4 linked regions of the Homo sapiens genome follow. The protein of the gene in region 3 purifies or fractionates together with the protein of the main gene of each other region. This does not show direct contact. Each region holds a gene or a part of one and is shown on either strand. Other genes may lie near its edges.

Region 1 (3,625 bases), on a different chromosome or scaffold from region 3:
ATGCAGCAGCAACGCTACCTGGAGGAACATGCCAGCCAGGTCGTCCTCAGGGCCCAGCACCCGGAGCTGGGTCCCCACCCGAATCCGGCCCTGGCCTATGGGCTGCTCTGGGCTGCTCTTTGGTTTGGGTGCCTCTGTGCTGTCTGCAGAGACAGGAGAACTGTCAGTGGCTGGACACTTTCTGACCTGCTTCCAGCGGTGGGAACTGTACAAGCCATGGCGAGTCCTGCCCGGGGACTGTCACCCAGGAGGAAGAGCTCAGACCTGGGCTCTGTGTTCCCCAAGGACCCCAGGTCTCGCTCAGGTCCACAGGGATCTCAAGACTCTGAACAGGAACGTGCATGCTGGCCAGAGGCAAATGCTGCCCAAAGACAGGCTGAGAGTTTCTGTGGGGGCCCCTCTCAGGTGGCATCAGCAAGTGTGCACTGCCCTGTGTGGCTGTGCAGGCCCCGTCCCCCTCCCCAGGCTGGGTCTCTGTGTTGGCCCCACCCCTCCCCAGGCTGGGTCTCTGTGCTGGCCCCACCCCTCCCCAGTACCTCGGCGGGGCGGCAGGGAGGCTGTGAGCAAGGAGTGGAAAGTCTGGCCTCCGGAGGCGCCGCGCTCATGCTGGACCTCCACCAGGTGGGCCATGTAATCTGCAAACCGTAGCAGGGTCACACCTGGGCGCGGCCAGGGGCCAGGGAGCAGGTCCTTCCCTCTCCACAGAAACCAGAGTTGGAGATGCCCCCACCGTCACCAGCACTTCCCAAGGACTTCAGAAGCTGGGTGAGCTCAGTCAGCACTGAGGCCCCAACAGCTCCCTCCAAGCTCAAAACACGGCCCTAGGGGGTGCCTGGCCCCAGGGTTGGGGCAGGCCCAGGCCTCGGCTCCCTCCTGACTGTGCCAGCCTCACCAACCCACAGGTCTAAGCCTGCCCTCGAGTGCCACCCACACCCACCCGACCTCGGATCACCCACCCGCTCGCACCCAGGCCCCAAAAGCCTGGCCGGGCTGGGGCTCGGTCAGCGTGTGTGAACCCACTCCGCAGGTCCCTGGCATCTTACTCTTGTCCATGATGTTCTGCTCCAGAGTCTGGGGGTCGTGGGCCACTGCCTGGTCCAGGAACTGGAGGAGTTTGCTCATGCTGGACACGGGGATGCCAAACGACTGCACGAACAGCAGCAGCTGCTGCGGCTCCAGGTCCTGCAGGGCTGAGGGTGCACGCGCTCCGTAACGCCACCCAAAACCCGGGCAATGCGCACTCGGGACCCCACCCGAGACCTGGGGCTGCCTGTGTGCAGTGACCCCACCCACCTGAGACCCTGGGCCACGTGGGCTCGGTGACCCCACCCAAGACCTGGGGCAGTGCACACTCGGCAGCCCCACCTGAGACCCTGGGCCACGTGGGCTCGGTGACCCCACCCAAGACCTGGGGCAGTGCACACTCGGCAGCCCCACCCGAGACCTGGGGCAGTGCACACTCGGCAGCCCCACCTGAGACCCTGGGCCACGTGGGCTCGGTGACCCCACCCGAGACCTGGGGCCGCACAAGGGGGCAGCGTGTCGGGACCACCTTGCACCCTGGATGGCAGCTGTGTGGGCCCCATCCCCAGGGGTGGGTGGGCGCTCCAGAGGGCCTATGGTGGCACGGCGCAGTACACTTCCGAAGCTGCACGCAGGCTGCTGTGACTATCTTCTCTCAGTGCTCAGGGCGCTCTTGCCCCGAAGCCATCGGTGGCTTCCGGGGGCACACAACAGCCTAGACCCCTTGGCAGTCATGGGTTTCCAGAGCCAGCCCCACTCACTCACCAAGCTGCCCCCAGTGTCTCCTCACTGTGAGCAGGCACCAGCCCTACTGACCTACGTGGGCCCAGGCCCCTTGCTCAGTCCTTGCTGGGGTCCCCGGCTGCAGCTCCAACCCCCAAATCCTTCAGGGACCCACCCAGAGGCCCCACCACTTCTCCTCCTCCTCTCCAACCCCAGACCACTTTCTCTTTTTTCCATCGAGGACCTGTTTCTCACTCTAGACCCCTGAGCCTGACAGTAAGACCCTCTCGGACGGGGCCAGCACAGGCTGCCCTAGGTCTCCTCCCAGGGTCCAGCACAGCCTGCTGTGGCCAGGACATATGGTCTGCAGGATCCCCTGAGGCTACCCGGCCAGTCTTCTCCTCTGCCACAGCCGGAGGCTGCCCAGGCCCACAAGGAGCAGGCAAGGGGCCCGGGACCCCTGAGTCAGCAGCCCCTGCCCAAGCCCAGCCTGGACCGTACCGGCGTCCACCAGGCGGAGCACCTCAGAACGGATCATGCGCAGCTTCAGCCAGTCAGGAAGCAGCAGCGCCTCCTCCGATGTGTCCACCAGGAAGGCGGTGGGCAGTGGCTTCTCCTCCGGAAACCAGATGTCCAGCAGCGCCTGGAACTCGCTGTCGTCGGCTTCAGGAAGGACAACGGGTGAGCAGCCTTCAGACCCACCGGGGCCCAGCCCCAAGCACCGCTGGTGCCAAGGCTAGAGGCACCTCCTCTCCCGAGAAGGAAACTGAGACTTGGGAGGAGCACGGGGCTCCTGTGCTAGGTGAGCACTTGCTATGTGCGGATGCTTTGCGTAGGTGCACGCATTTGATCCTCACAGATGCTGCAGGAAGGCAAGCAGCATCACTGCCATTTTGTCGTGGCCAAGGGGACATGTGCGTGTCCCCATCCAGCCCCTGCCCTCGGGGCTTTGCTTGGCTGGACCAGGTCCCATCCAGCTCTCTGGCTCCGCAAAGCCACTGGGAAACCCCACAGGCCCAGGCCCACACAGGGCCAGCTTCTCCGGCTGCCCTTCCCAAGGGCGACGCCTGTGACTGTGTCTGCCTCCCAACAGGGGTCACCACCCACCCACGTCCACCCGAACCCCAGCATGAGGGTTCCGCCCCCTTCCCCCACTGACAGACACAACGGGGTGAACGTGGGAGCAGTTCATGGTGTCAGCCAGGAGTAAAGGGGAAGGCTGCGGCCGCAGAGGGCACGGCTGGGTAGGCGCTGGGTTCCAGACACTGCGCTGGCCAGAGCGTCCTCAGGGTCACTCGCCTGGGCCCCGGGGAGAGGACCCACTTGCCTGGCAGCCTCATGTCGCACCTCCACACGGTGAAATCCCGAGTTTGCCGCCTCCCAGGCACCGCAGGCCTACACGGTTAGGCTGGGGCAGTGAGGACTCTGACCCCAGGCTGTACCAGGCCCTCCAGCTCAGGGCTCTACAGGCTGGGAGGTCCCACCACGTGGGGATCTCCCACACGTCCACCAAGTGCTCAGAGACACGCGGGACGGACTGCAGCCTCCTCTTTAGGAGAGAAGCCAGGACACAGGGTTGAAGGGCTGGGGGGCTTCCCGCCCAGAAGCAAGGCAAGGATGCGGAAGCCGCTGGGTGTGGTCAGGGCTGTGGCCCACCTGGCACGAAGCTGCCCCTCCCGGGGCCTGTGGCGGCTCACCTCGAGGCGGGCCCAGCGTCAGCAGGATCACCATGGCATGGACCACGAGGATGTGCATGGTGGCTGTCTCCCCGCTGCTCCAGCGTAGGAAGACCTGGTCCTGAGACTCCGACTGTGGGAAAAGAGGTGGAGTCAGGCCGTAAGGTTCAGGGACCCTGAGCCAGCGCCGAGGGTACCCAGCT
Region 2 (3,625 bases), on a different chromosome or scaffold from region 3:
TGATCTTGAACTCCTGACCTCGTGATCCATCCACCTCGGCCTCCCAAAGTGCTGGGATTACAGGCGTGAGCCACAGTGCCCAGCCGGAACTGGGTAATTTATAAAGAAAAGAGGTTTAATTGGCTGACGGTTCTGTAGGTTGTACATGAAGCATGGCTGGGGAGGCCTCAGGAAATTTACAATCATGGCAAAAGGTAAAGGAGAAGTAGGCACATCTTCACATGGCCAGAGCCGGAGGAAGACAGAGAGGGGGGAGATACTGCACACTTTTAAACAACCAGATCTTGTGAGAATTCTATCACAATAACAGCTCTGGGGGATGGTGCTAAACCATTAGAAACCACCCCCATGATCCAATCACTTCCCACCAGGCCCCAGATCCAACACTGGGGATTACAGCTGAACATGAGATTTGGGTGGGGCACAGATCTAAATCATACCACCCCACCATTACACAATATACCCATGTAACCTGCACATGTATATCTTGAATCTAAAATAAAATAAAGTTAAACAAAAAAAAAGATTCTGCCCTCAAATGCTGGCTCCTTTGTGAAACCTTCCCTCACACTGTATTGTTTTGAGAGAGGGAAAAAAAGCTCCTTCAATCTTCCTATATTTTGCATTTCCACACTCAGAAGTACATGACTTCACTTTGCAATATCACTCTCTCTATATATTGCTTTTCACAATTTGCCTGCTTCTCAAAGTCCCAACTCCACAAAACTTATCAAAAGCAAGTTTGAGAGGAGGAGCTGTCTTTTCTTCTTTGTATCACCTAATTCAGTATCCCGCACATAGTGGGTATGCAATATTTGTTGAATGAATTTAACTATTTGCCTTTTTACTTAAACGTATTATAATTCATCAGAATAAAATCTAAAATACATAACAATTATCAAGTCAAACATATGATCAATGATTCATAAAGACACATCTGAAAAATCAAATTATTTGCGAATTATTGGCTGTTTTTGCAATCCACTCTCTTTTGAGCCACAGGTAATTTTTATTCCTTTGCCACATGGTCTGTAAACATTATTTTCAGAGAGGTAAGACAACCAAACATCATGCCATTTCCTAATCAGCATTAGACAATAGGTTTCTCCTTAGACAAGCAGTGATCATAAGTCAGCAAAATAAGCAGCAAGGGCAGGGAAAAAGGTAGAGTAGCCAACTATGTCTTTCACTGAAATTAGTATTAGAATATCTTATATTTTGGAGAGCAGAAAATAAGGATTTTTTTAAACTTAAAGGTGGGGGGTTAAAGGTATGACGTGAGTTACAATCAAGACTGGAAGAACCAGACTAAAGGAGGCAAGAACTCATAGTCAAAGATACTAAAGTTCAAGCAAAGGCGGTGGCAGACCCAGACCAGAGAGCAATCCCAGAGAGAGAGATGGTTATTCAGGTTGGAGCACTTAGAATATGAGGAATGAGGAAAGCCCTAAGTTTCTTCTCTAAAAAAGAACAGAAGGCTAAGCCAAGACTCTAGCAAGGTGGGGTAGAGTCTAAAAGAAGTCTTGTAGCAGAAACACAGAAGACAGTGGAATCTAGCCAAAGAAAGATAGTACAGGAAGTTCAGCATCTACTATTATCTGAATGTTCTCTCCAAAATTCAGGTTGAAATTTTTTTTATAAATTACTCAGTCTGTGGTATTTTGTTATAGCAGCACAAAGATACAACTGTAGGAGCAACATTTTCAGAAGGTGAGAGGAAATGGAATCCAGGGTGTAAGTACACAGATTAGATTTATCTGGGAATAGAGACATTTAATGTATTTCAATATGAGAAAAAGTAGCAGAATAGGTACAAATGTAGATAAGCTAGTGAATTTTGAGGTAGAAAGAAGAACTTGCCTTGTGATGGCTTTCATTTTCTCAGTAAAGACAAGGTCTAAAAGAATGAGGTAGGGGAGAGAGGAAAGGAGAGTTTAAATTAGAGGCTTCAGAAAGGAGGAAAATGTTTGAAATATTGATTTTCAAGAATAGACATAGTAAAGAATTGTGGGAGTGTTAGCAGTATTTAATGTGCATTTGCGACTGAGATTGTTTCTTTAAAATGAGACTAATCAGGGCCAGGTGCATTGGCTCGTGCCTGTAATCTCAACACTTTGGGAGGCCAAGGGATGAGGATTGCTTGAGCCCAGGAGTTCAAGACCAGCCTGGGCAACATAGAAGACCCTGTCCCTACAAAAAATTTTAAAAACTTAGTAGGGGATGCAGTGGTGCATACCTGTGGTCCCAGCTATTCAGGAGGCTGAGATGGGAGGACTGCTTGAGCCCAGGAGGTCAAGCCTACATTGAGCTAGGATCATGCCACTGCACTCCAGCCTGGGTGACAGGGCAAGACCTTGTCTCGAAAAAAAATTGAAAATAAAAATAAAGATAAATGAGACTAATCAGCAAAGTTGTCTCCATTTTCCTCCGTCCGTGTTTACCTATAAGGTATAAAAACAGTTGGCCAAGTTGAATTTAACCAGTGTTGGGTTTTGGCAGGTGAGTAAAACAGAAGATTACAGGGGCCAGAAAATAAATGGGCATTTGCAGTACACTAACTACAATAATGGACCACTCAGTCTAAAGCGGGAAAGGAGAAAAAGAGGACGTGAATGCTTCACAAATGCATGTCTTAAACCCTAAGTGGTCTGTAAACTCAAAAGCAAAAGCCATGAGTTCTATGCTACGTATATATACCTCACCAAAGAGCAATATAGTTAGTAAAAGCCTTTGCTGACTGATTAAATGAGTCTTCTCCATATTCCAGAACTCCAAATGATACAAACTCATCAGATTTAATTTTTTTAAGTAGCTTTCTAAAGATATGGAAAGAAAAATAAATCTATGGTTGAAATGTTTGCGTTCTGAAGAGCAGGTGAATGGGTTCCCATGATACTTCCATATAAACAAAGATTAACTGCAGGACACTAATCAAAAGAGACCACAGCAGTAGAAATTAAACTTAACAACAATTAATTAACTTCATATGGGAAAATAAAACCTAATTACTACAGTGCATCCCCTCCCAGAACAACTTCCCCTACCTCACAGAATGAAAACCACTGCATTTCCAGGCAGTTTCTCAGCAAATACTAACTATGTCAAGAGAACTGGAACTTTGATACTACTGCTAACTACAGCCTATCTTATTAAAGAATTTAAAATAATTCTAGAAAATATGTGACCACCTTTTATGATACTTAATTTATTTAAATTACTTAAAGTCACTCATTTTTGCTACTTTATTCTTTCCCTATTTAGATAATGTCAAGAAAATCCTAGAAAAGACAAAACATACCTTTAATAGGTTAGGTTCAAATAAAACTTATCATGGTTCAAATAAAACTTATCACAATATTTTATACGTATAGATTTTCAACTATATATTTTCAACTATTCTTTTCCCCATGGCCAAAATATATGGTTTAATCAGCTCAATGAAATAAAGAAAAATTGGGTCCAGATAGCATGTTAAGGAAGAAAAAGAGATAAAACTATGATAAGAGAAAAAAGGTTTCGTTCCCAGGCTGTGTTGCTACTCAAGTCACCAAGAGGACAAACCATTAGCAAAGAAATGAAATAACTTCCTTATCTGTAACATGAGAATACTAAAGCAGATACTACT
Region 3 (3,625 bases):
GTTGTATGCTGGGTCAAGTCAGGGCAGGAGAGCTAGTAGAGACAGACTATGGCGTAAGTCATAAGCAGGCTGTCCAGTTGTCCCGAAGGTGGATAATCAAGTCAATCTTGGTGGCTAGCCAATACAAGGCTTGTCAGTGGGCCTAACGCAGTGGCTCATGCCTGTAATCCCAGCACTTTCGGAGGCTAAGGCAAGCGGATCACCTGAGGTCAGGAGTTCGAGACCAGCCTGACCAACATGGAGAAACCCCACGTCTACTAAAAATACAAAATTAGCTGGGTGTGGTGGCGCATGCCTGTAATCCCAGCTACTCAGGAGGCTGAGGCAGGAGAATTGCTTGAACCCAGGAGGCAGAGATTGCGGTGAGCTGAGATTGCGCCATTGTACTCCAGCCTGGGCAGCAAGAGCAAACCTCCAACTCAAAACAAACAAACAAACAAAAAACAAAAAACCACGAAACACACCTGTCAATAGTATGTGTGCAGCGCGGGAAAAGCTGGGTCAAGGATGGCTATGGGGACAGGTTCGAGCCTCTACGTAGGCAGTGAGATGGGCAGAATGGATGGTGGGAAAGACGCCTGGGGAGAAAACCCAAAGTTCTGATTCTCATTGGAGAATATCATCTGATGAGCCCTCCCAGCTGCTCCCCACCCCCAGCGGATGGTGTCTGCTCACCAATGGCTCTCTTCTCATCCTCCAGGAACCATTTGAGCTGTGAGACCAGCCTGTCCCCCTTGTGGCCCCTGACAAACTCACAGTTGGCTCTGAGAGCGAGCAGGTAGAGGGCCAGCTGGCCCATGGAAGGCTTGCCCTGGCAGTCACCGTCATCCTCGCTGAAGGCAGACCTAGGACAAGGCCAGTTAATGCCTTTGTGAGAAACTGCCACCCCGTAAGCCTGCTTACAGCACCCACCCCACCCGCATCACAAAGCGGGAAAAAATCTTAACAGTGGGAAACTTTGATAAAAGCTCCAAAAGGAGGTGTGTTGGCTATGTTGTTGTGAGGTGTATGCCACAAATATTTAATAAAGATGAACAGTTAGATTCAAGAATAAACTCCAAGGGCTCCTGTGTCCAGATCATCTGTGCCTGCCCCACTATTTTGTCCATACTTCACCCATATGCCCCCTCCTTTTTTATTTTTTTATTTTATTTATTTATTTTCTTTGAGACAGAGTTTCGCTCTTGTTGCCCAGGCTGGAGTGCAGTGGCATGTTCTCAGCTCACTGCAACCTCCGCCTCCCGAGTTCAAGCGATTCTTCTGCCTCGGCCTCCCAAGTAGCTGGGATTACAGTTGCCCACCACCACCCTTGGCTAATTTTTTGTATTTTCAGTAGAGACAGGGTTTCACTATGTTGGCCAGACTGGTTTCGAACTCCTAACCTCATGTGATCTACCTACCTTGGCCTCCCAAAGTGCTGGGATTACAGGCGTGAGCCACCACACCCAGCCATATTTTTATTTTTTTTTTTTACTGAGATAGGGTCTCTCTGTCTCCCAGGCTGGAGTGCAGTGGTGCCACCATGGCTCACTGTAGCCTCGATTTCTCAGCCTCAAAAGATCCTCCCACCTTTGCCTCCGGAGAAGTGGGGACCACAGGCATGAGTCACTACACCTGGCTCATTTTTTTTCTTTTTCTTTTTTTTAAGAGATGTGGTCTCACTATGTTGCCTAGGCTGGTCTCAAACTCCTGAGCTCAAGCAATCTTCCTGCCTCAGCCTCCCAAAATGTTGGGATTACAGGTATGAGCCACTATGCCTAGTCTTCTTTTCTCTCCACCCCTGCATCCACTTCTCAAGAGGGAGTCTGAGAAAGAGGCACTCCATGGCTGATTCTTCGCCTCTCATTCAAACCCCAAAACAGGCCTCTCTGTGATGCCTCTTGAAAAGGGAGCACAAAGATGCTGCTTTTGGATTGGTGCAGTGGCTCATGCCTATAATCCCAACACTTTGGGAAGCCAAGACAGGCGGATCACCTGAGGTCAGGAGTTCAAGACCAGCCTGGCCAACATGGTGAAACCCTATCTCTACCAAAAATACAAAAATCAGCTGGGCATGGTGGCACACGCCTGTAATCCCAGCTATTCAGGTGGCTGAGGCACGAGAATCACTTGAACCCGGGAATTGGAGGTTGGGGCAAGCCAAGATTGTGCCACTGCACTCTAGCCTGGGCAACAGAGTGAGAGGAAAGAAAAGAAAAGATGCTGCTTCTGGGCTCAGTATGAAAGAATGCGGTCATGGATTACTGATGTCTGCCTCATGCATGGGAGGGGAGCATACAGAGTCAGATGCTGCTTCTAAGCTCAATGTAGAAGACTGCAGTCATCGATTAGTGATATCTGCCTCAGGCACACTAAGGGAGCATAGAGTCAGATGCTGCTCCTGGGCTCATCATCAAAGAGTATAGTCACGGATTAGTTATGTCTGCCTCAGACACATGATGGACAGTAGTAGCAAAAGGAGCCTTGCATTAGCATCTCTGATCTAATCCAACCAACCCCTTCATTCTATAGATGGACAAAGGTCCTCCATTCTATAGATGGAGAAAATTTGCCTAAGGTCTGCCCACAAAGTGGTGACAGGCCCAAACTAGTACCCAAGTTTCCCATCTCTTAGTATGTGGAGCAAGACATGGAAAAAGAGAGTGTGGCAATACCCTAGGAGGCACTGCTGGTAACCAAGCTTGAGGCTGTGCAGGTAGAGGTCTTCCTTGGTCCCAGCCTGCAGACTGGAGAGGCGTAGGCCCACATAGATGCTGGGGTTCAAGTGCTCCAGGGAAAGCCGGTCCATCCAAGGTAAGAGGTGCTGGCCCAACTTCTCTACCAGATGGCTGTCCATCTCTGGTATTTCTTAGAAAAGAAAATGGTACAAATGAGGTCACAGGGCCAGGCCACCAGCAAAGAAGTGCTTTGACGTTACCAGGGCCTTCTCCAGAGAATACATGTCCTCACCCCCACCTCCACCCAGCACACACCAACTTGCAGGGGGAAATGCAGCCATACTGAAAGGCAGTGGGAGGAGAAAAGAGGGGAAGCGTGTATCTCTAAAGAGCAGTTGGAGTGAGCCAGCAAGAGAGGTGGTGGGCTGAAGATAGAGGATGCTACTGCCAGGCAACCACTCTGCCCATCAGCAGTGACAGTGAGACTGGTGTGCCCGGGCACCTTGCCCAATCTCACTTGGTCCTCATGCCAGTCCTGTGATGTAGATACTGTCATCATTGCTTTGCACAGAAGAGGAAACAGAAGTTCAAAGTCGTGTCATGTCTTACACAAGGCTGCAGAGCCAAGGATGGACCTAACTGCAAAGCCCCCGCTCTTTGGTGCCCTGCTGAATGTGTGTGCTACCCGTTTACAAAAACATCAGCCCACATGCAGAACGTGTTACACATCAAATTTCCAAACAACGCAAACTTCCAGCTGGTGAATTGAGGCTGCCTGGTGAACTTCCTCCATGCAGATCTCAAAATAACGCCTTTCCTGCCATCTCTGTTTAAATGAAGAGGACCTGAGATTGTGAGATGAGCTCTTAGAAAACAGTCACAGCTTGCAGCCGTTTACCTGTTGCTGTGGGATTTATTCGAAGCTGTGCAACGAAAATACTCAAACACTCTGGAAGCGGAAGCCTTAG
Region 4 (3,625 bases), about 11 Mb from region 3:
GTTGGACGAGGGTTTTGTTCCAACATTGGTCTTGCCCCACCCCTAAACAGTCTGCCTAGCACCTAGGGACAGTGCTGAGGGCAGCAGAGGCACTATCTGCAAATGTCTGTGAGGCTATAACTGGAGAGGAGGCTCTTCCACAGGGCTGTGGGAAGCCCTCCCAGAGGCCGAGGCAGACTCCCACCTGCCAGGCCATACCCAATAATGACCCCTGGCCCCAGCACTCTGCCCAGTCTCCAAGGAGGTGCTGGATAGTCACAGGGGCATAAAGAGCACCTCAACAAAGGGAAGTCAGCTGAGACAACCTTGAAAGCTACTTCACCTCTGTCCACGAGGGCTGAGCTGGGCCCAGCATGCAGGCATGACACCAGGTACTCTCTTCCTGGGCTGCATATCCCTGCTTTGGATCCAAGGGCCAACTCTATGCCCTTGGCCAGTTAACAGTTCCAAGTCAGCTTACCCTGGGGAATCAAGCTATTTTTAGGCAAGCTATTTCTGCAGGGGAGAAGGTTCGTAAGGACTAAGATGTTTTATTTATTTATTTATTTATTTATTTATTTATTTATTTAATTTTTTTGAGACAGAGTCTCACCCAGTTGCCCAGGCTGGAGTGCAGTGGCGTGCAGTCTCGGCTTTCTGCAACCTCCACCTCCTGGGTTCAAGCGATTCTCCTGCTTCAGCCTCCTGAGTAGCTGGGATTACAAGCATGCGCCACACAGTGTGTTTTCGTATTTTTAGTAGAGATGGGGTTTCACTATGTTGGCCAGGCTGGACTTGAACTCCTGACCTCAAGTCATCCACCCGCCTCGGCCTCCCAAAGTGCTAGGATTACAGGCGTGAGCCACCATGCCTGGCCTATTTATTTATTTTTTTGAGATGGAGTCTCTGTCTGTCGCCCAGGCTGGAGTGCAGTGGCACGATGTCGGCTCACTGCAACCTCCACCCCCTGGGTTCAAGCAATTCTCCTGCCTCAGCCTCCCAAGTAGCTGGGATTACAGGCGTGTGCCACCATGTGCGGCTAATTTTTGTATTTTTAGTGGAGATGGGGTTTCACCACGTTGGCCAGGCTGGTCTTGAATTCCTGAGACCTCAAGTGATCCACCCACCTCCGCCTCCCAAATTGCTGGCATTACAGGCGTGAGCCACTGCCCTCAGCCAAGATGTTTTAAATTAAAAATGAAACCAGTCACTTGAGCCACAATGATGATCGGACGGCAAAATGCAGGTGTGCAGACATACCCATCTCTGTGCCTCACCTGGTCAATTAGCTGTCTCCTGGATGGGTTGGTCTCCTCAAGGACGTGAGCCCAGAGCTCCGGATCCTTTCTGCATACCAGGTAGCGGGCCTCGCTTTTGAACAGAGAATTCTCATTGCACACCTGAAATGAGCACACTCATGTGTGTGACACAGCAGCCAACCAGCGGAAGCTGCTTGGGAGGACACACCCCAATTCGTTCCCTGTGTGCCTGATACTGGTTTGGTGGACAGTCAGGGCCCAGGCAAGACGCTATGCTTTGACATGGGATGAGCAGCATCCTACAGGGTTAACGATGGACTCAAACTACCTCAAAATGCCCTTTCCAAGTTTACAACAACTCCCAGGGATGTGCCACATATCTGGCCAGTAGGACTTCCTGCATTCAGGGACATGCTCTGTCTCCCATTCTGTCTGATACAGCCACTAGCCATGGGAGGCTACTGAGCCCTTGAAATGTGGTGCGTGACAGGAACTAAACTGGTAATTTTTAATTTAGTTAAATTTAAGTACTCATATGTAGCTAGCTTTAAACCATCTGTAAAATGTTATCAGAACAGCCTAGAACTGGTATAAAACAGCACAAACACTGCAATGTTTCAAGATCTAAAAACTGTAAACTGTGCTTTCACTGGTAGATCTGGAGACCTTTTTCTGAATGTTATAACAGATCTCCAAAACACCAACAGTCCACTGGAATGTTCTAGCGTGTGCAGCACTTGCTAAATCCTGGTGAGGATCAGATCTGTTGAGTGCCAGATGCCCGGCACAAGGCTGAGCGGCGTGCACACGTGCTTGCGGATGCAGCGCAGTCCGCCTGTGTATCACAGGAAAAGCCCAAGCAGGCTGGTGTGGCACCAACCTCACAGGTGCCCTATTCATGTCTGGATTTTTAGATCAAATGATTAGGTAGGAACAGTTCATACAATTCAACCTAAACATGTAATTATATGTGGATCCAAGCCTGGGCAGATGCAGGCAAAAGACCTGGGCAGATGTCTCAAGGAGAGGCCAGCAAGAGCTCATTGGTCAGGTGATGGGGAAGGGCTTGTGTAGAGGGTTACCCCAAAAAGGGGGCATGAAGTACAAGGGTACTCGGGACATGAGGCACCCAGGGAATTGCAGGCCTCTCCAGGTGGGGTGGCAAGATGGATGGCTGATCAAGTTCGGGAGTTGGGAAAGGTGGCAGTCCACAGAGGAGCTCACGAGTCAGGCCAAGGAGTTCAATTCTGCCCTCAAATTGCCAGGCAATAGTAAGGACTGTAAGCAGAGGGATGATAAGTCAGGTTCAGGACCAACTGGTCTACAGGTACAATGCATACAAATTGCATGAGCAAGTTCCCAAAAGCTGTGAGAATCACAAGGAAATAATCTCATGACCTGCCATCTCCAGGTGCACAGAAAGCCCTGATCAGCTCCCCACAGGCACACCTTTGAAAGCTTCCCTGGGAGCCCAGGGTTACATGGGCAGCTCAGCACATCTGCTACCCACCTTGATGAGCTCAAGGTCACACTGCCCCCGCTCATAGGCAACACAGGCCAGATGGGGGTCTCGCTTCTCACAGTAGCGGCCCACCACGCTGCTGTCATAGTAGGCATTCTCTCTCAGGAAGCACTCGGGGCTGTTGTTGCTGTCGATGTAGATTTTAGCCAGTGCATTGTGAGTGGCAGGCTCCTCACAGCCTTCCTGAATCTGGGACTCCAGCCAGGGAAGCAGCAGCTTGAGCCTTTGAAAGAAGGAAGGTGCTGTAAAGTCTCAAGGCTACCACTGGAAGTCTTGAGGGCAACTCCAGGGCTCTGACAGATGTTTCCTGAAACAAAAAATCTCAGAGTCCATTGACTTCAGGTTGCTCTAGGGACCAAGATGGACCTGGTTTCCAAACTGATTTCTACTGTTAGGTTTTCCCCCAAGGTCTTCACAGTACCAATAGCAAGTAACTCATTGCTACATCTAAGATGTGTACATGAACGACCAGCTATAGAGACAGTCCTGGAGAATTAGACAGAAACAACAACAGACACTAGAATCCAGGGGTAAGAGAAAACACCAAGTAAGGACACCTTACCTATTTCTTTTTTCTACTTCAGCCACCAACTCATCAGTAGAGAACTGTCCTCTCACTGCCATGATTAAGTGTTTAATCACTTCCTCAGAACAATCCACATCAAGCAGCCCTCCAATCACAGCTGGGGTCCGGCTAGGGTTGACCTAGGGTAGTCAAGGTCAAGTAACTTCAGTGTTGCAAACACAAGTTATTGTTAGAAGCCTCCTACGACGTGGACAGTTTGGGCAAAACCCTGAAAGGGCTCCTGTTTAGCACTGCGCTGTGTCCCACCAAAATTCACCTGCTGATGTCCTAACCCCTAGT

The links. Proteins that work in one complex are often made in the same cells at the same time.
Region 1: the proteins of TCN2 (region 3) and INTS1 purify together in Homo sapiens (affinity purification with mass spectrometry; one large-scale study listed by BioGRID and IntAct). This does not show direct contact.
Region 2: the proteins of TCN2 (region 3) and DNAJC3 purify together in Homo sapiens (affinity purification with mass spectrometry; one large-scale study listed by BioGRID and IntAct). This does not show direct contact.
Region 4: the proteins of TCN2 (region 3) and CLTCL1 purify together in Homo sapiens (affinity purification with mass spectrometry; one large-scale study listed by BioGRID and IntAct). This does not show direct contact.

Annotation. Positions count from the first base shown.
Region 1 is NC_000007.14:1,480,299-1,483,923, forward strand, and holds part of INTS1 (integrator complex subunit 1), read right to left. Parts: intron 3,556-3,625; coding exon 3,444-3,555; coding exon of another isoform or gene 3,403-3,443; intron 2,410-3,402; coding exon 2,248-2,409; intron 1,191-2,247; coding exon 1,044-1,190; intron 636-1,043; coding exon 537-635; intron 144-536; coding exon 19-143; intron 1-18. UniProt on the Homo sapiens protein: Component of the integrator complex, a multiprotein complex that terminates RNA polymerase II (Pol II) transcription in the promoter-proximal region of genes.
Region 2 is NC_000013.11:95,680,105-95,683,729, reverse strand, and holds part of DNAJC3 (dnaJ homolog subfamily C member 3 precursor), read right to left. Parts: intron 1-3,625. UniProt on the Homo sapiens protein: Involved in the unfolded protein response (UPR) during endoplasmic reticulum (ER) stress.
Region 3 is NC_000022.11:30,610,093-30,613,717, reverse strand, and holds part of TCN2 (transcobalamin-2 isoform 1 precursor), read right to left. Parts: intron 2,848-3,625; coding exon 2,655-2,847; intron 846-2,654; coding exon 676-845; intron 1-675. UniProt on the Homo sapiens protein: Primary vitamin B12-binding and transport protein. Delivers cobalamin to cells.
Region 4 is NC_000022.11:19,218,629-19,222,253, forward strand, and holds part of CLTCL1 (clathrin heavy chain 2), read right to left. Parts: intron 3,466-3,625; coding exon 3,323-3,465; intron 2,984-3,322; coding exon 2,749-2,983; intron 1,380-2,748; coding exon 1,257-1,379; intron 1-1,256. UniProt on the Homo sapiens protein: Clathrin is the major protein of the polyhedral coat of coated pits and vesicles. Two different adapter protein complexes link the clathrin lattice either to the plasma membrane or to the trans-Golgi network.